Homo sapiens: one gene and its partners. The protein of the gene in region 3 purifies or fractionates together with the protein of the main gene of each other region. This does not show direct contact. Each region holds a gene or a part of one and is shown on either strand. Other genes may lie near its edges.

The links. The genes of interacting proteins can lie anywhere in the genome.
Region 1: the proteins of FAM174A (region 3) and GAK purify together in Homo sapiens (co-immunoprecipitation; 3 studies listed by BioGRID and IntAct, with this or other methods). This does not show direct contact.
Region 2: the proteins of FAM174A (region 3) and ZNG1A purify together in Homo sapiens (affinity purification with mass spectrometry; 2 studies listed by BioGRID and IntAct, with this or other methods). This does not show direct contact.

Annotation. Positions count from the first base shown.
Region 1 is NC_000004.12:922,314-929,341, reverse strand, and holds part of GAK (cyclin-G-associated kinase), read left to right. Parts: intron 1-7,028. UniProt on the Homo sapiens protein: Associates with cyclin G and CDK5. Seems to act as an auxilin homolog that is involved in the uncoating of clathrin-coated vesicles by Hsc70 in non-neuronal cells. Expression oscillates slightly during the cell cycle, peaking at G1.
Region 2 is NC_000009.12:169,054-176,081, reverse strand, and holds part of ZNG1A (zinc-regulated GTPase metalloprotein activator 1A), read left to right. Parts: intron 1-297; coding exon 298-384; intron 385-2,715; coding exon 2,716-2,812; coding exon of another isoform or gene 2,813-2,816; exon of another isoform or gene 2,817-3,593; intron 3,594-3,909; coding exon 3,910-4,001; intron 4,002-7,028. UniProt on the Homo sapiens protein: Zinc chaperone that directly transfers zinc cofactor to target metalloproteins, thereby activating them.
Region 3 is NC_000005.10:100,538,374-100,545,401, reverse strand, and holds part of FAM174A (membrane protein FAM174A precursor), read right to left. Parts: intron 1-7,028.

The DNA of each region.
Region 1 (7,028 bases), on a different chromosome or scaffold from region 3:
CAGCCGTCGTATGGTTTAAGCGTAACCCGCCTCGTGCGTTTGGTTGGGTGTTGTATGTAATTTGAGCCAGCCCGCAGCCCTTGTGTGCCATGCGCAGTGTTAGCTGAGTGGCTGGGCCCGCTCAGGAGCCTTGGGGGTCAAGCTCTGGCCTAAGGAATGGGGAGGGCACAGCCTACTCCCACCCCCAGGGCCACTTGTGTGTGGTCCTGACTCTCCACCCTTCTTCCTCCTTGACATGGCTTTTGGAGGCTTCCTCCCTTCACTTACTTAGAATGTTCTGGGCCGGGCGCAGTGGCTCACGCCTGTGATCCCAGCACTTTGGGAGGCCGAGGCGGGTGGATTACCTGAGATCGGGAGTTCGAGATCAGCCTGGGCAACACGGGGAAACCCGTCTCTACTAAAAATACAAAATTAGCCGGGTGTGGTGACACATGCCTGTAGTCCCAGCTACTCAGGAGGCTGAGGCAGGAGAATCGCTTGAACCTGGGAGGTGGAGGATGCGGTGAGCCAAGATCACGCCATTGCACTCCAGCCTGGGCAACAAGAGTAAATCTCCGTCTCACCAAAAAAAAAAGAAAAGAAAAAAGAATGTTCTGGACTGGGTGAGGGCACTGTGAATATTTGGTACTGACTGACAGTTGCAGAATCATGTGGTACAAGCAAGACTCTTGGTTGCAAGTTTCAGAAACCCTCCCAGGTGGGCTCAGTGGCAGGAAGGCCCCATGTCTCCAAGGTGGGCTCAGTGGCAGGGGAGGCCGCATGCTGGCCCCATGTGTCCTCCGCAGGGTACACTTGAGATCATTTTCTTTTATTGAAAAGAGTCTGGCTCTGTCGCCCATGTTGAGTGCAGTGGAGCGATCACGACTCACTGCAGCCTTGAACTCCTGGGCCTACGTGATCCCCCTGGCCTAGGCCTCCCAGAGTGCTGGGACGACAGGCATGAGATAATGTGCCCAGCCTTAGACTGATCTTAAAAGTAGACCGGGCCGGGCACGACGGCTCACGCCTGTAATCCCAGCACTTTGGGAGGCCGAGGTGGGCAGATCACCCGAAGTCAGGAGTTCGAAACCAGCCTGACCAACATGGCAAAACCCCATCTCTACTGAAAATACAAAAACTAGCTGGGCATGGTGGCGCGTGCCTGTAATCCCAGCTGCTCAGGAGGCTGAGGCAGGAGAATCACTTGAACCTGGGAGGTGGAGGCTGCAGTGAGCTAAGATTGCACCACTGCACTCCAGCCTGGACGACAGAGCGAGACTCTATCTCAAAAAAAAGTAGACCCTTAGGTTGCTGTGGCGAGCCAGCCTTGTAGCCGACCCTCTTCCCACATAGGACTTGTGACTGAGGGCACCAGCCTCTGAAGCTCCGTGCTGTTCTCTTGGCCATGTGACTGAGGGCACCAGCCTCTGCAGCTCTGTGCTGTTCTCTTAGCCACCAGGGTTCTGTCATCCTTGCTTCTTTGTACCTCTCCTGGACCCAGAGCCTGAAGTGCGGTGGCTGCGCTCACCCAGGGAGGGGTGCGGGGCCTGCGCTCACCCAGGGAGGGGTGCGGGGCAGTGCAGAGCGCAGGTAAGCAGGGAGGGGTGCGGGGCAGTGCAGAGCGCAGGTAAGCAGGGAGGGGTGCGGGGCAGTGCGGAGGGCAGGTGAGCGGGGAGGGGTGCGGGGCAGTGCGGACTACAGGTGAGCGGGGAGGGGTGCGGGGCAGTGCGGACTGCAGGTGAGCCGGGAGGGGTGCGGGGCAGTGCGGACTGCAGGTGAGCCGGGAGGGGTGCGGGGCAGTGCGGACTGCAGGTGAGCCGGGAGGGGTGCGGGGCAGTGCGGACCGCAGGTGAGCGGGGAGGGGTGCGGACTGCAGGTGAGCCGGGAGGGGTGCGGGGCAGTGCGGACTGCAGGTGAGCGGGGAGGGGTGCGGGGCAGTGCGGACTGCAGGTGAGCCGGGAGGGGTGCGGGGCAGTGCGGACTGCAGGTGAGCGGGGAGGGGTGCGGGGCAGTGCGGACTGCAGGTGAGCCGGGAGGGGTGCGGGGCAGTGCGGACTGCAGGTGAGCGGGGAGGGGTGCGGGGCAGTGCGGAGCGCAGGTGAGCCGGGAGGGGTGTGGGGCAGTGCGGAGGGCAGGTGAGCCGGGAGGGGTGCGGGGCAGTGCGGACTGCAGGTGAGCCGGGAGGGGTGCGGGGCAGTGCGGAGCGCAGGTGAGCCGGGAGGGGTGTGGGGCAGTGCGGACTGCAGGTGAGCGGGGAGGGGTGCGGGGCAGTGCGGACTGCAGGTGAGCGGGAAGGGGTGCGGGGCAGTGCGGAGCGCAGGTGAGCGGGGAGGGGTGCGGGGCAGTGCGGAGCGCTGGTGAGCCGGGAGGGGTGCGGGGCAGTGCGGAGCGCAGGTGAGCGGGGAGGGGTGCGGGGCAGTGCGGAGCGCTGGTGAGCCGGGAGGGGTGCGGGGCAGTGCGGAGCGCAGGTGAGCGGGGTGGGGGGGGTTGCGGGGCAGTGCGGAGCGCAGGTGAGCTGGGAGGGGTGCGGGGCAGTGCGGAGCGCAGGTAAGCAGGGTCTCTGGGGCTTGGTTAGTTGGTTCTAGGTCATCAGGCCTGTGAGGCCCAGATTCTGCCACAGAGTAGCTGCCCCCTGGCGGCTCTCCTGGTACCAACCGCCTTCACTTCCAAGTTGACAGCTTGATCATCAACATTTGTCCACTTTGGCTAGTTCCCAGCGTGAAGTAAAAATGGTCAGAACCACCACAGCAACCCTTAGGGGCTCTTCGTATTTGCCGAGCATGGTCAGTAGTACTTTATGTGGATTGTGTGGTCCTCACAGTAGCCCTGGAAAGTGGGTACTATAATTACTTCCATCTCGCAGAAGAGAAAAGTGACGTTTGCAGAGATTAGTTGCTTGCCAGAGGTCGAGTGGTGGAGTGGGGGCTGGGAGCCCCAGGGAGGTGTCCTTAGGGCCCCTGTCCTGGCCCCCGTTGCTCTGCGCATTGTGCCCTGGAGGAGATGTCTGAGCATATAAGGTAGTAGAGGCTGTTGGGGCGGAGAGTGACAGGCCAACACCACTTCATGCTCAGCTGCGGCTGACCCTTGGCAGGAACAAGCCTGTGTTACTTCTGTGGTTTCTGTCTGTTAACATACAGGGAGGTCACTCTTGGGGAGGACCCCATGGGTGGGCTCACCATTGGGGGAGGTCACTGTCGAGGGAGGACCCCCTGGGGTGAATTAGACGTTCGGGGAGGTCACTGTCCAGGGAGGACCCCCTGGGGTGAATTAGACGTTTGGGGAGGTCACTGTCGGGGGAGGACCCCCTTGGGGTGAATTAGACGTTCGGGGAGGTCACTGTTGGGGACGACCCCCGGGTGGGCTCACCACTGGGGGAGGTGACAGTTGGGCTGGGCCACTCCCCTTTCCTCCTCCTCCACTCCGTGGACTCCTGGTGAATTGCTCATGGTTGTCTGTGTGGGTGCGCATCCCCGTGTCCCAGTCCGTCTGTGCTGCTGTAACAGAACGTCGTACACTGGGGGCCTATAAACCACAGACGTTTGTTTATTCCTCACGGCTCTGCAGGCTGGAAGTCCAGGCGCAAGGCGCCGGCAGATCTGGTGTCTGGTGAGGTCCAGCACCTTCTCGCTGTGTCCTCACAGGGCAGAAGGGGTGAGGGAGTGCTCTCTGGGGCAGTAATCCCAGTCCTGAGGGCTCCACCTTCATGGCCTAGTCACCCCCAAGGAGGCCCCACCTCCTAACACCATCACCTTGGGTATTAGGATTTCACACAGGAATTTTGGAGGGGACACAGATTCATTCTGTAGTGTTGTGAATTATGTGTGTATTGAAAATGTTGGTATGTGGTATTTTACGTTAGAAAAGTGTCTGTTTCTTAAAAGAGGCCGAGTTGATTAAAAAAGATACTCAGATCTGCCTGTAGTGGTCCTGTACTGACCTCACTGTCCCCCGGCACTCTGTCCCGTCCCCAGCGTGCTCCGTGCATCCTACACGCATCCTGGTGAGAGGTGTCCTCAGCCCTTTGCATGGACGCTGGTGGGCTGTGTGGGGGAAGGTTGCCCAGCTCTGCTCATGGGGCCTGCAGGCTGCTCGGGGGCACCAGACTCTAGTGTCCCAAGTCCTCAGAGTGTCCCCTGGGGGTTTGTTTTATTTGGACATTTTGATGGGTTTAAAAAGTGTCAAGCTTTGATTTGTGCCTTTCTGAGTAGCGAGTTTGGTAATGCTTATTTGCTGCTCAGCCTCCCCTTCTGGCATTGCACATTCATATCCTGTGCCTGTTATTTTTTTATTCTTATTTTTTTGAGATAGAGTCTTGTTGTGTTGCCCAGGCTGTAGTACAGGGGTGTGATCTCAGATCCTGGCAACCTCCTCCTGAGAGCAGCCCCCGGGCAGAACTCCACCCCCATGACCCAATCAGATCTCACAGGAGAGCACTCACTATCCTGAGAGCAGCCCCTGGGGGAACTCCACCACCACAACCCAATCAGATCTCACAGGAGAGCACTCACTATCCTGAGAGCAGCCCCCCGGGGGAACTCCACCCCCACGACCCAATCAGATCTCACAGGAGAGCACTCACTATCCTGAGAGCAGCCCCGGGAGGAACTCCACACCCATGGCCCAGTCAGATCTCACTATCCTGAGAGCAGCCACGCCATGGGGAACTCCGCCCCATAATCCGGTCACCTCCCACCAGGCCCCTCCTCCAACATTGAGGGTCACAAGTGAACATGAGATTTGCATGGGGACGCAGATCCAAACCGTATGTGCTGTTATGAATAAAGATCCAAACCGTGTCCGCTGTTATGAATAAAGATCCAAACCGTATCCGCTGTTATGAATAAAGGTGCCGAGAACATTTTTTTTCAAGTCTTTTTGTGGACGTGTGTTTTTCTTTGTCTTGGGTAAAAAATACCAAGGAGTAGGATTGCTGATTTACAGGTTGGATTTAGGTTGAACTTCACATGAAACAACCAAACCTCCTTCCACGGTAGCTGCACCATTTTACATTTCCACCAGCTGCAGTGGAGAGTTCCTGGCTCTCCACTTCCTCACCAGCATTTCTTGTGGTCTCTCATTTTGATTACATCCATTCTTGTGAGTGTGCAGTGGTGTCGATCTCATTGTGATTTCATTGGAATTTCCCTGATGATGATGTTCAGCAATTTTTTTTTTTTTTTTTTTTTGAGAGGGAGTCTTGCCCAGGCTGGAGTGCAGTGGCTCCATCTTGGCTCACGGCAAGCTCCACCTCCCAGGTTCAAACAATTCTCCTGCCTCAGCCTCCCAACTAGCTGGGATTAAAGGCATGCACCACCATGCCCAGCTAATTTTGTATTTTTTAGTAGAAATGGGGTGTCACTATGTTGGTCAGGCTGGTCTCAAACTCCTGACCTCAGGTCACCCGCCGGCCTTGGCCTCCCAAAGTGCTGGGATTACAGGCATGAGCCACGGCGCCTGGCCTTTTTGTCCATTTTTTATTGGGCAGGGAGTTTCTGCTTACTCTGGATACAGGTCTTATGTTTATATATTTATATAATTTATGTGAGAAAGAGAAGGCAAGCCTTAGCTGTGGTCACTCTGCTGTCCCAGGCCAGGCTGCCTCAGGGAACCTGGGCCTTGAGATTTGACCTGGCTTGAGCATTTGATGTCTCTGTGCCTCCACTCCCCACCCCTCCACTCCCTGCCCTTGAGATGAGGTCTTGCTTTGTTGCCCAGGCTGGAGTGCAGTGGCATGATCACAGCTCACCACAGTCTTGAACTCCCGGACTCAAGCGATCCTCCCACCTCAGCCTCCCAGGTAGCTGGGACCACAGGCACGCACCACCACGCCTGGCTAATTTTTAATTTATTTCTGGTAGAGATGGAGTCTTGTTATGTTGCCTGTAGGCTGTTCTCAGAACTCCTGGGCTCAAGTGATTCTCCCACCTCGGCCTCCCAAAGTGCTGGGATTGCAGGTGTCAGCCACTGTGCCTGGCCTGTGCCTGTTCCTTAATTGGCAGAGTGTGTGCTGTAAAATGTATATAACAGGGTCTTGGAGGTACCCGACATGCCATTCTTTAATGTCTTATACGTTACTATTATTTTTAAATAAACTGTATTATTTTGAGTTCATTGTAGGTTCCCACGCGGCTGTGAGAAAAGATGGAGATCTTTTCTATTTTAGACCCTTGCCTGGTTTCCCCAGTGGTGACGGTCGGGATGCTAACCCTGGTGCAGGTGAGGCTGTGGAAGTCTCCATCCCCGTAGGGAGCCCTCATGCCACCTCTCAGCCACGCCATTTCCTTACCCTCTGGAAACCTCTAGTCTTTGCTCTGTCTGTGATTTTGTCATTCGAAGGATGCAGTGTAAGGGGAAGTGCAGAATTCTTCAGGTAATTGTGTGTCAGTAGCTTGTTTCCCGTGGTGAGACTCCTCTGCGTGAGTGTGCACGGCTTGCCCAGCCAGCCACCCGTGGAAGGACATCTGGGCTGTTTCCTGTTTTGGCTACTACAGATAAAGCTGCTGTGACACTTGCGTATAGGTTTTTGTGTGAATATACGTTTTCATTTCTGGGATAAATGTTTAAGAGTGCAGTTGCTGGTTCATGTGTGGTAATTATGTGTTTAGTTTGTTAGAAAACTGCCAGATTGTTTTCTTGAGTGGCCATACATTCCCACCAGCAATGTAGGAGCGTATCAGCCTGGTTAGGCTGCCATAACAAAATACTCCAGACTGAGTGGGGAGCAGTAGAAATTCACTCTCGCAGTTCTGGAGGCTTGAAGGCCAAGAGCAAGATGCTGTCAGTGCTGATTCCAGGAGAGGCCTCTTTTGCTGGTTTGCAGATGCTGCCTTTTTTTTTTTTTTTTTTTTGAGATGGAGTCTCGCTCTGTCACCCAGACTGGAGTGCAGTGGCGCAATCTCAGCTCACTGCAACCTCTGCCTCCTGGGTTCAAGCAGTTCTCTTGCCTCAGTTTCCTGAGTAGCTGGGACTACAGGCGCCCACCACCATGCGCCGCTGATTTTTGTATTTTTAGTAGAGACGGGGTTTCACCATGTTTCCCAGGTTGGTCT
Region 2 (7,028 bases), on a different chromosome or scaffold from region 3:
AAAGGTCATTATAAATAAAAGATTGTGTGTAAATTTTAGGGAAGGTTAGGCTAGGTTGAAGAAGCTGTTTCAACTTGTAGGAGTGTTTGTAAATATTTATAAAATTTTATGTCTACATAAAGTATTTTGCAACAGGTTTCGAAGGATGCTTTAATCTTATCCTCTAGGATATTCTATGCTAAAATAATATATGAAAAATAGCACGCAAATTCTCAAAAACGTTAGGATTCTTTATATGTTTTTTGTATCTTTAAAATTATTTTGAATTTTTTTATTTACAAAAAATATGTTTTATAGGTGCTGGGAAGACAACACTTCTGAACTATATTTTGACAGAGCAACATAGTAAAAGAGTAGCGGTCATTTTAAATGAATTTGGGGAAGGTAAGTAAAGTTCAATAAATGTCATGTTGCAAGATTTTGTGTGACTGTTTATTCCTCTGGTGAATTGATATTCCATATTTAAAAATGAAAATGCAAGGTATTGTATTGATGTGGATAGCTTTAGAAAAGTTGGATTAATTTCTGTTAAGATTTATATGGGTTGAGATACTGAAATTAGTTTTAATAAAATTTTATTTTGTATAACTTTGGAATTCTTATTAACAGAATTAAACTACATTTTTACATGAAATAAATGACTCCAGAAGTAAAAATCTAGACATATGAAAAAACGTTTATTTTTTATTTTATTTTATTTTTTTTGAGATGGAGTCTCTCTCTGTCGCCAGGCTGGAGTGCAGTGGTGCAATCTCAGCTCACTGCCACCTCTGTCTCCTGGGTTAAAGTGATTCTCCTGCCTCAGCCTCCTGAGTAGCTGGGACTACAGGCGTGCGCCACCATGCCCAGATAATTTTTGTATTTTTAGTAGAGACAGGGTTTCGCCATGTTGGCCAGGATGGTCTTGAGCTCCTGGCCTTGTGATCCACCCGCCTCGGCCTCCCAAAGTTGCTGGGATTACAGGCATGAGGCACCATGCCTGGCGAAAAAATGTTTTTTTTAGGAATTAGGAAAGCACTTTTGTATGGACTCTATTGCAACTCATGAAAAATACTTGAAAATGCTTCTGTTATTAGTTAACTTTGTTTAATGTTTATTATCTGCAATGCAGTTAAAACTCAATATTTTAAAAATAAAGGTAAACATATGGTCTTTATCCTCATGTATTTTAAGTTATCTGTGAAAATAAGTGTGCTTAACTTCTCAACTGAAATATTAAACTGTAGTCAAAAAAATAGCTCTAGACACAATACTTCTGTTATCTTTATAGAAGTTTTTCTTCATAAGTATGAATTGTAATCAAAGCTTACTTCTAGCCAAAAAACAATATCTATTAAACGATTTCTTTTAAAATGTACTATTTTTTTTCAGTTGTAAAAAGTAAAAGAGCTAGGTTTTATGAACAGGATGGGAAGCCAGTTATATTCGATTTCTGGTTTTAATAAACGAAAGAGAAAAGTGCTTTTTAGGCAAAAATCCTGAGATTTCTAATAACAGACTGTTTTTTTCATCATCTTATTAAATAACCTATTGCACACTGATTACATTTATTCTTACTATTTTCTTTATTTTTTCCTGGATCATTTTTGCAATTTTATTTTTCACAGCATTCTCAATACTTTTCTTCATGTTTCATTAATGTTCTGTATATAGTCCAAATTCTGTAGCAACCTCTTTAGAAGCTCTTTATTAATACCTAGCTGAAATATAAAAAATATGTAAGTGTAAAACTACTCGATTTTATGGGAGCTCATTTGCTTAGTGGGCTTTTAGAACTTCACTGTTTGGTATATTTCTTTATTAGAGGAAAAGTAAAACATTTAAAATAATTCTTATAGATAACAAGCATTTCAAATGTAGTTTATTCTTTCTTAAGTAAGTATTGCTAGGAAAATATGTGAATTTGACTAAAAGTTTAGGTTTTTTTTTTTTTTTGAGATGGAGTCTCGCTGTGTTGCCCAGGCTGGAGTGCAGTGGCGCAGTCTCGGGTCACTGCAACCTCCGCCTCCCGGGTTCACGCCATTCTCCTGCCTCAGCCGCCTGAGTAGCTGGGACTACAGGCACCCGCTACCACACCTGGCTAATTTTTTGTAATTTTAGTAGAGATGAGGTTTCATTGTGTTAGCGAGGATGGTCTCGGTCTCCTGACCTCGTGATCCGCCCGCCTTGGCCTCCCTATAAGTTTAATTTTTAAATGAGCACGTGGTACACTGGCCAAAAACCTTCCTCAAGATGAACTAGGGTTTTTACTCATTGGGAATATTCAGCAGTTTGTCTAACAGAAACAATTTAGAAGAAGAATGAAAAGAAAAAGATAGATAAGGCAGTCTCTTAAGAGGTTGAAGGGCATACAAAATCCAGTATATAAAACATACTGGTCTATTTAGAAAGTTTACCCTGGACAAGAAAAAAATGCCTTCAAGATAGCTACTTTATTAAGAAATGGGGGTGGCCAAGTAAGAGGCCTAAGGAGGAAGTAGGTATGTTTATCAGTTTAGGATGTGTCTTTTTCAGGGCTTAAGTCATCTTAAATAAAAGCTAAAATAATGTAGTGTACTGTAATTTAGATATCGAGGCTGCATGAATAAAATGAAAGAATATAAGTTATAAAATGCAGTTTCTGCTTTAAGATCTCCATTATTGAGTTATCCTCATCTTTGTTTTTTTTTGGCTAATGGACATAAGCTAAAGAGTGCTGTTTGTTAATTATTCTAGGAAGTGCGCTGGAGAAATCCTTAGCTGTCAGCCAAGGTGGAGAGCTCTATGAAGAGTGGCTGGAACTTAGAAACGGTTGCCTCTGCTGTTCAGTGAAGTGAGGAATGTGTTTACTGTGTACATGGTTTACTAGAAATGTTTATTGATTATATTTCCAGCTTTAATTTTCTTGAGTAATTTAACTGAATTTACACAGTTTGCTTCATTGTATTTTCAAACAAATAGAAAATAAACTTATTAGGAAGCATTTTCTTAAAGTGTTTCTTGCTGTCTTTTCTATCTGCTCTAATGTTTTGGTCCTTTTATTGAGTTTTTATTGCTTTTGATGTCAGGGCTTATTTAATCTCTAGTGCATGAAAGTCTCATATGTAAAAAATGATTATTCTGAATTTAATCTGTCATTGGTCATACTTCTAAGTGTTCAATCTTATAAAAAAAATAAATGACTATCAAAAAAGAGAAAAACCTTACGTTATGTTCTACTAGTTAAGTTTTCAAGGACAGTGTTCACTAGTCTACCATAGACCCTAGAAGAGTTACCCAACACATAGTAGCACTCAAATATTTGTTGAATGAATTATAAAAATGACTACTTGTACTGTTAATTTTGTGTATTCTAGTGAATTAAATCTCTTCGGCATCATTTACTCCCTTAGGTATTTGACTTTGTGTCAAATGTTTTGGCAAGGATAAAATTATAACAGACTTTCTTGAACAACCAAAATATAATCTATTAAGGATTTTCCTTCACTTTTGATAAAATAAGAAAAAAGGAAATTAAAACCTTGCATCCTAATGTAAAATAGAATTATATGGTGTTTAATATCAGTGTCTCTTTAGCTATTATATTAAACTACTATAGTTAATACATTTTATCATTATTTTGTATGTTGGTTTTTAAAAATTTCATAAAGCTATAAAAAGATACTTGGTCAGATAAAGTTTCCTCTGCTTTTAATTTTGATAAAGTATTATGTATATGATTTCTTTTTACCTATTATATATATGCATCTATTGTTTTCTCACTGGTAAATATGGGACGGACATTTTGTTAGAAGGTTAGAAGTGAGTTAAATTTTCACATTCCCAAGGGTACTTTTGTCTCGGGTTGTTGAATATATTTTAAAGTGTTTATAATAATCACTTCAAAATATTTAGGTAATTAACTGTAAATTATGTTTTGGTATTCTCCAGGGACAGTGGCCTTAGAGCTATTGAGAATTTGATGCAAAAGAAGGGGAAATTTGATTACATACTGTTAGAGACCACTGGATTAGCAGACCCTGGTAAGAAGTGAGATTATTAATAACCAGAATATAGTTCTGTGATATATTGTAAATAGATGTATTAGAGGAATATCTAAAATGAGGATTAAAGCTTTTGTTAGTATTAAACCAAAAACTTTTTTTGGTTTAAAAGAGGAAAAGTACTCGGTTGTCATTTTCTTTGGCAGTTGAATGAATGAACAGAGTATTTCTTGGTACTTTTAAGCTGTTAATAGAATTTGAAGTTTTATTGATTGACTTAGGATTATTTGTAAGAACAGAAGTTGTTAAAAATAAGGACATGTAGGAAGAGCAGAGACGTTCTACCTCTAAGTACAGTTGTCCCTTGGCATCCATGGGGTATTAGTTCCGGAATCTCTGAGGATACCAAAATCTATTAATGTTCAAGTCCCTTACATAAAATGGTGTAGTATTTGCCTATAAGCTATGCACATCCTCCCATATACTTTAAATCATCTGTAGATTACTTATAATACCTAATACAATGTAAGTGCTGTGTAAGTAGTTATTACACTGCATTGATAAGGGAATCATGACAGGAAACTCTGAACTCTACTATGGAAAGCTACACAGAGTCAACCTGTTTCTAACAATGGGTTTCTGTTACCTTCTTACCAAGCTCTAATTCTTGATAAAGTCTGCTTATTTTCCCCAAATAACTTTTAGATAAAATCTTTATTTTCATTTTGCATAAAAGTTAGTGCTTATTCTGTGAATCTGACCCATACCATTATTTTTTTTTTTGATCTGGGTCTCTGGCATTGGGGCGATTTGTAAAACTATATTAAAGTATTTGGGGGTAATTTACTCAACAGGTCATAGTTGTCCAAAAGAAATATTGAAGTATCCTGAGAGTTCAAATGTGATCAGTGGTTATTGTACTTAAAACAATTACATAATAACATCATCCCCATGTTTTCAAAGTAGTATTGAATTAGGCTATTTTGGTCCTTATAGTAGGCATGGGTTTTCATACCTTTCTGATAAATCTGACTGATGATAGGACTTGGACTAATATGTTGGTGTTAAATATTTGAATCTGGTAAGAAAGAAAAATATATTGTATGCTTTTATTAGAAATAGCAAATATCAGTTTATTTCATCATAGCCAGTTTTGCCATTTTATAGACAAAAACTTGATACTTTTGAGAGTTTAATTAAACACGATTCAGCTTTTCAGAGGAAGAAAGAAAAACTAAAGATCACAGAGAAAGCTTTTATACAAATTGTAGTTATAAAAAATGTTAATGTTTCTTGCTTCTAACTTTCTTTACAATAAAGATTTTATTGTTTGGGTAAAGATGGAACATTCATTGTAAAAAAATTTAAATACCTAAAAAATACAAAGAAGAAAGTTGAAAAGTAATCATCTCACTTTTGTGATATACAAGTAGGGGCTGGGCATGGTGGCTCATGCCTGTAATCCCAGCACTTTGGGAGGCTGAGGCAGGTGGATCCCTTGAGGCCAGGAGTTCAAGACCAGCCTAGCCAACATGGTGAAATCCAGTCTCTACTGAAAATTCAAAAACTAGCCAGGCGATGTGGCGCACCCCATAATCCCAGCTACTCAGGAGGCTAAGGCAGGAGAATCGCTTGAAAGCTGGGAGGCGGAGGTTGCGGTGAGCCGAGATCACGCCACTGCACTCCAGCCCAGGCAACAGAGCAAGACTGTACACACACACACACACGCACATGCACATGCGCACACACACACACACACACACATTCATACACACACACACACAAGTAGGTACATTTTATTCCAGGGATCTCTCTATGCCAGTGCTACTTGGTAGTATGTTGAATGGCAGCCTCAGCCTCAGCTGGGAGCTTGTTAGAAAGGCAAATTCTTGACCAACCCAGATCTACTGAATCGGAATCTCTAAGGGAGGGGGTCAAGCAAGCTGTTTTTAATAAGCCCTTCAGGTGATTCTTATACTGTACAGCCATACCGCAGGGATATTGTGGGCTTAGTTCCATATCACTGCAGTAAACTGAATATCACAATAGAGTGAGTCACACACATTTTTTTGTTTCCCATTGCATATAAAAGTTATGCGTTTTGGCCGGGTGTGATGTCACAGGCCTGTAGTCCCAGCTACTTGGGAGGATCACTTGAGCTCAGGAGTTTGAGGCTGCAGTGAGTCATGATTGCACCACTGCACTCCAGCCTGGATGACAGCATGAGACCCCATTTCTTAAAAAAAAAAAAAAAAAAAAAAAAAAGCTGTGTTTATACTATACTGTAGTCTATAAAATGTGTAATAGAATTGTCTAAAAAACATACATACCTTAATTAAAAATATTTATTGCTAAAAAATGCTAACAATCATCTCAGCTTTCAGCAAGTCATAGTCTTTTTGCTGGTAGAGGGTCTTGCCACGATGTTGATGGGTGCTGACCAATCAGGGTAGTAGTTACTGAAGGTTGGGGTGGCTATCGCAATTTCATAAGATAATAATGAAGTTTGCTGCATTAGTTGACTCTCCCTTTCATAAAAGATGTCTCTATAGCACATGATGCTATTTGATAGCATTTTACCCACAGTATGACTTCTTTCAAAATTGGAGTCAGTCCTCTCAAACCCTGCTTTATCAATTAAGCTTCTGTCATATTTTAAATCCTTTGTTGTCATTTTGACAGTGTTCATAGCATCTTCACCAGGAGTAGATTCCATCTCAAGAAACCACGTTCTTTTCCCGTCCATAAGAAACAACTTCTCATTAGTTAAAGTTTTCTTATGAGATTGCAGGAATTGAGTCACATCTTCAGACTCCCCTTCTAATTCTAGTTCTCTTACTGTTTCCACCACATCGGCAGTTATTTCCTCCATTGAAGTCTGGAATCCCTCAAAGTCATCTGTGAGGGCTGGAATCATCTTTCAAACTCCTATTCATGTTGATACTTTGATCTCCCATGAATCACAAATGTTCTTAATGGCATCTAGAATGATGAATCCTTTCCAGAAGGTTTTCAATTTACTTTGCCCAGATCCATCAGAGGAATCACTGTCTATGGTAGCTATAG
Region 3 (7,028 bases):
AGAATATAGCAATAAAAATCTATCCAAAAACGCCAAGGAAAACCTGATTTCTTAAGAAAGTAACTTCAATTACTATAAGATTCTCAATTTATGATTTAAGTATTTCTCTAGATATGTTTTATATCATACTGAACAATGCAAATTACCAACATATCTTTCAACCCAATTTCAACATTTTACCATATTTCTCATATTTTAGAAAAGATCAAACCTAAGTAATTTTTTAAATGTAGTCTTCACCAAAGATAAAATTAGAATCAAATGCAATAATATAGAAGAGAAATACTACAATGGGCACTGGAGATCATGACAAAAGAACTCAGGAACTTTGAAGTGTAGGAGTAGAGGTGATACTCAAGATATTTAGCTATTTAACAACTGGCAGGGCATAAGGACCATCTAGTCAGAATAGACGCTTGCTGTAGCAATGGGTCCAGAAACACTGGTAGAGTGTATTGGTAGATACCACCTGAGCATTGCTACCAGTTGATAGTAATGTTCAAATGCTATTGATTTTGTTTTCAGAAAAACTTTGCAATAACTAACCAGAAGCATCTCAATCTAGTTTCTCCATTTTGTCCCACATTCAACCTCTATCAATTACAGAGGAATGCATTTTCTGGTTGTACTCTAATACCCTGAGGACTGCAGTCATGTTAGATATACACTGGTGAATAATCTGCACATTATCTTGGGTAAATACATGCAAATATACACCTGTTAAAAAAACTGACTTCTCTGCACAAGCATATATCATGAGGCTCCAGTATGGAATTGAAATGAGTTAAAATGACTACATTATTGCAGGATTGATGTTAACACCACTCTCACACAGCTACCTCACATTTTTAATCTTCATTTACATGTTTTGATTTCACATACATTATTTCTTTTTTATTCTTTTCCTTTATCTTTCTTTCTCCTCTTTTCCCCCTCTCTCTCCTCTCCTTCTCTCTCTGTCTCTCGATCTCTCTCTCTCTCTCTCTCTCTCTCCAGGATCTCATCTGTTTGAGGATGCAGGAGTACAAATGCAGGGGTACAAATGCAGGGGTATGACCTTGGCCTCAACTGTTTCCGGGATGCAGGGGTACAAATGCAGGGGTACGACCTTGACTTCCTGGACTCCAGTGATTCACTTCAGTTTCTTGAGTAGCTGGGGCCACAGGTCACCACAACTAGCTAATTTTTTCTTTTTTTCATTTTAGTAGGGATGAAGTCTCACTATATTGCCCAGGCTGGTCTCAACCCCTGGATTCAAGCAGTTTGCCTGCCTCAGAATCCCAAAATGCTGGGATTACAGGCATAAGCCACCATGCCCAGCCTGATACATTATTTCTTATTTCCTTTTGATATTAATTCAGAAAACGTGAAAATCTACTATTTTCTAAATAAGGTATAAAAAGCAAACAGTGTAGAAAAGAAGACAGAAACAGAACCACCTATTATAGTCCCCTGGAAATAATGTCATAACACAGGTATTCTCAAAATGGTCTGGAATCACAGAGATTTCCCAGTAGAGTACATGTTCCATTTCATCTTCAAAGACAACCAGGAGTTAAACAAGAGAATAAAGAAAGAATGCAAAGAATTCCATCCTTGAAAAATGTACTTGCATAAAAATATAGTTCACTAGAGACTGGAAGACAAGATAAAATAAAAAATGATGGCCGGTAGTCCCAGCCACTCGGGGAGGCTGAGGCAGGAGAATCGTCTGAATCCATGAGGTGGAGGTTGCAGTGAGCTAAGACTGTGCCACTCCCCTCCAGCCTGGGTGACAGAGGGAGACTCCATGTCAAAAACACCAAAAAATCTGATTAAGGAGCTAATTAAATACTAAAGAGTATGAACATTGATCCCATGAAATGCCATAGAATTGTGCTACCCAATAGAACTTTCTGCAGTGATGGACATATTCTGCATTGTTCTGTCCAATACAGTTGCCACTAACAACATGTGATTATTTAGCCCTCAAAATGTGGCTAGTTGGCGGGTGAAGTGGCTCACACCTGTAATCCCAGCACTTTAGGAGGCCAAGGCAGGCAGATCACTTGAGCTCAAGAGTTCGAGACCAGCTTAGGCAACATGGCAAAACCAAATTTCTATAAAAAATACAATAAATAGCTGGGTGTGGTGGCGTGCGCCTGTAGTCCCACCTACTTGGGAGGCTGAGGTGGGAGGATGGCTTGAGCCCGGGAGGCAGAGGTTGCAGTGAGCTGAGCCAGACCTTGTCTCTAAATAAATAAAAGAAATGCAGCTAGTATATCTAATGGACTGGAATTTTACATTTTATTTTTCATTAACTTTGTTTGAGACAAGGTCTTGCTCTGTCATGAAAGGTGGAGTGCAGTAGTGTGATCATCACACACTGCAGTCTTAATATCCTAGGTTTGAGTGATCCTCCCACTTCAGCCTCCCAAACAGCTGGAACTTACAGGCCTGCACTGCTATACCCAGTATGTGTATATACATATATATTACACACACACATATATATACACACACACATATACCCCCTACACATGTGTGTGAATATTATACACACACACACACACACATATATATATATAAATATAATAAGCAGGATCTCACTATATTGCCCAAGCTGGTCTCAAACTCCTGGACTCAAGAGATCCTCCCACCTTGGCCTCCCAAAGTGCTGGGATTACAAACGTAAGCCACTGTGCCCAGGTAACATAAGTTTTTAAATAGCCACCTGTACCTACTGGCTACCATATTGGACAGTGTAGCAATAAAGGATTATAAGCACACACATAGTATGATAGATTTACATCTCAGAGGGAACACCATCTGTTCAGTGTTGAAGGTAAATTGAAAGAGAGACAGGTGAAGTGGAGAAAAGTTAGAAACAATAGCACAATAATCTAGTGATGTGAACCTAAACTAATGTAAGGTCAATTGAGCTCATAAAGCAGCAATATAGTCAAGAAATATTTAGCAATTGAAATTGGATGACTGTATGTGAATGGTAAGCAAAAGAGAGACATGGGATGACTTAGGTTTCTAGTTTGAGAAACTGTGTAGATGATGGTGTTATTCTCCTTATAAAGAGAGTACAGCAAGATTTGTCCAGGGATAAAAATACTGTTTCAAGCTTAAACTTGAAAACAAGTCTGAATCATCTATCCCGTAAGAAGTTGGCTGGCTATACATGTCTGTAACTCAGAAAGTAATTAACAGCTTAGAGGTGGCCATTAAGGAAATGAATTTTGGATGGATCACCCAGGGAACATGGACAGTGAAAGCAGGGCCCAGAAAACACTGTCAGTTGGGAGGTGAAAGTCATTCTCTTCCACAAAAATTCAATGCATCTCGTTGTATTCTAGGAATCAGATTGGGCCTTTAGGGACCAAAGATGAGTAAGACAGAGGCCCTGCTCTCCAGACATTAGCTTGTAGAAGAGTCCTAATTAGGAAGAAGAGTTCATGGAATAAGAAATTCATGAAGAAGCTAGGCAAGAAATACTCAAGGAGGTAAGAAGAAAATCAGAAGAGATGTCTCAGAAGTCAAAGTAAGAACCAGTGCACTGAGTGCTACAGAAAAGGGGAAAATATCCATGAAACTGAGACAATGTGCTTATTAACCATCTTCTGCATGAGTAATTCTAGAGTGGTAGAATTAGAAGCCAGACTACAAAAAGCATAAGAGAGAATGAAAGGCATGGAAATGGGAACATTTCAATGGAAAATCTCTCTCCTGTCCTATGACAAGAGCTTTATTTAGATTCCCTCCTTAATGTCTTCTTAGGTATCTTCCTTTCCCATATCTTCAATATTTCCTTCTGTACTTGCTCTTTCCCCACTAATGGCATTTAAACAAGACTGGATAGTTCATTCTTAAATGGACCCCTTTCTACAGCTCTCATCCAATACTTCTCCCTGCCTGCACAGTTAAGAGTGAAATGAAATATATCCAAGCAGAAAAGGTCAACTGAAAATAGATTCAGTTACAGGGCAAGTTTGTAAAAGATTTATGCTGATTAGAGATAAATATTTAGTCTTCTACAAAAATATAATAGTTTTTGTTATGTTATGAAGTGGCTTTTCAGATGGCTTTGTCTAACAGGAATGATATTTAAGAGCAGCCTTCTCCAAATAGCTTCAGCTCTTGCTGCCACATTCCCAAAAGTTTAGTTTATTACCACAAAAAGCAGTGGTACTCCTTCACTAGATAAGCTCCTTGAACACAAATATGATGTCTTTATTATCTTTGAAGCCCTAATATTCAGAAGTTTGAGAGATATAACAGTCATTCAAATTTATCAGAAACAGATTTGTGTGGGCTTAAAGGTGGCCCATATGATAACTTGTCAAACTACTTTACATAGTCCACATTCAGCATTGTCCTACAAATCTCCTGAGCCAGGGTGTCATACAAGCAAATGGCTATTGATGTGGTGAAGCAAAGATCTCCTCAGCTCTTGAGATCACTAGGCAGTGTCTAAGGTGGATAGTATCAGGGCAGGTAGTCTCATACATTTACCCCGTATAGATATCAATGTCTATATGTGGCATTACATGAGCAAGCATTGCTCTGGCCTCAACGCCCCCAACAAACTAGTACATCTCCACTTTTACCTCCCAGAACTGCACACATAACAAATATCACTTAAAAACAGAGCATTCTATTATCACTTCACTTATGATATGATAATCATATCAGGGATTATGATCCCTGACATATCAGTTATGTCATCATCTTGGTATTTTGGCACTTGACCACATAGCAAACTAACTTGACACTTTAAAATATTTTAGGTGTATGAGTAAACATTTTGTGAAGGGAAGTTTCACCTTTGCAAAAAAATATTCATTACTTGCGAACTAGTACTTGTTAAATACATTTCCAAGTTTCTGGGTCTCTTTATATAGAAAACATTTGATATACACTGACTAGCTAAATAAATAATGGCAAACCAGGACAATTTACACATGTTAGGAAAACTCCACTTTCCAAGGAGATATGAACAATTATAATGGAAGTTCCATGAATGCAGGGACTTTCCTTGTGCACTACTAACCCTCATCACAGAGCTTAGTAATGGCACCCAATAGGTGGTAAATAATATTTACTGAATTAGTGACAGTCACTAAATACATAAATGGTTAAATAGTCAAAAGTACTCCTGGTTTTGCTTAAATTAAGTGATTTCTATGGATGTTTTATAATTTTGTAAATAGGGCTGGTACCACAAGACTTCTAGGAGAAAAAGAAAACAACTCATATTCTTAAGTAACCAGACAAAAGAGAAATGGTGATTAAAGTCACATGCATAAATCATTAGTGACTTGCTCCACTAAGGTGGAAATATGTGTGACCATATTAACAGACGTTTCTTTAAAATATTACCATTCCCTGACTATGTGTAGTAAATCAGGAAAATCTTTGGATGAGGGAAGGAATGCAGGGAGTTGAGGTAGGAAACAAAATTATTTCACCTTGGCACAAATATGATGATCAATAAATGTTAACTCACTTTTCAAAAAGGTAAAATTTGGAGGTTTAACATCCAACAAAATCATGTGTTTTAAACAGAAAGGCACTGGGCATATACTATCCACTTTATTTTTCTCCATAAATAAGCTAGCCATCTTTATGTGCAATATCGCTTTAAATTGGTTACTTTAAATGATCACAGGAAGCAGCATGATGGTTGAACATGTTAGGTAAGTTCCAGCAGAGCTGGGTTTGGGCAGGTCCTGTATGTGCACGCTTGGGCAAGTTATTTAAACTTGCTCAGCCTAAATTTCCTCAGTAAGAATGATATTACCTACTTTGAAGGTTTTTGCAAGAATTTCAAAATGCACATAAAGTATGCGGTATTATATCTGACACATAAATTATCAATTAACTATCAGCTATTAGGATGATAAGTAAAAGCTCAAAAATAATCTTTCAGTTACAAAGTATGGTTCTTTGAAAAAACCTAACGTTGTGTCTTAGCGTATAGGGTTGGGTAAGCATTCAAATTAAATTAATATTCTTTATTTCCTATATAATATGTATTAATAGGATCTGCATTTTAATGCCTTTTCATAGCATCCTTTATGTACTTATCTATGTGATTATTTGGTTAATGCCCCTCTGCTCCTCTAGTATATAAGTGTTATAGAAGCAGAAATGTTTGTTTTGCTCAAAACTGTATCCCCAGTGCCCAGTACTGGTCAGTTGAATAAATATTGACTGCTTAAATAAAGGCTATCATAATAAATTTCATGCTCATCTCCACTATATGAGCATGAGCACCATATTTTCTTGAAATTGGAAGAGACTTGCTAAAGAGCATAGAGATTTTTTTTAAAAAAAGTAGAGGGTTAAACTTTTAAGCATCGATTTCCTTCCAATATACCAAATTGAATAAAAAACGAAAAACCAACGACATGGCATGAAAAAGGAAATAATTCCCTGCTTTTAAGGCAAGAATCATTATTCAGCTATGACAAAAATTGCTTTATATAATTACCATACGTGCTAAAACCAACAACCATCTACAGTGATTTCCCCCCACCCCCGCTCCCTGGCCTTATACATTTTACTGTGGAGAGAATGTCCTACTGAGAGGAAGGAAATAAAAGTATTAATTGAGATCTTCGCAGTTCTTTGTTCCGTCAGTAAACAGCAATTATCCTTAAATTTCCAAATCCTTACCACCTACCTGTTCAGCAATATAATACATGAAGAGTGCTCATCCATTAGGCAACTGCTTATTCAGTGCCCATCATATATTGCACATGATGTTTAGCACTGAGGATATAGGGGAGAATAAGACAGAAAAGTCTCTTTTCATAGAGATTAAGTGTTCATTTTAGGCAATCTACTTTGTCCCTACCGTGTTCCTTGCATATATATATATACACTTACATATATATATATATGTTTTGTATTTCTACAGTGAGAACCTGACTGTTCTTTGGAATGTTTCCAGACTCAAAAAGGAAGTTATTATTACCTACATATTCATTATAAATGAATTAGATAAAAACAAAACTATTTGAAAGTCTCATGTAGTT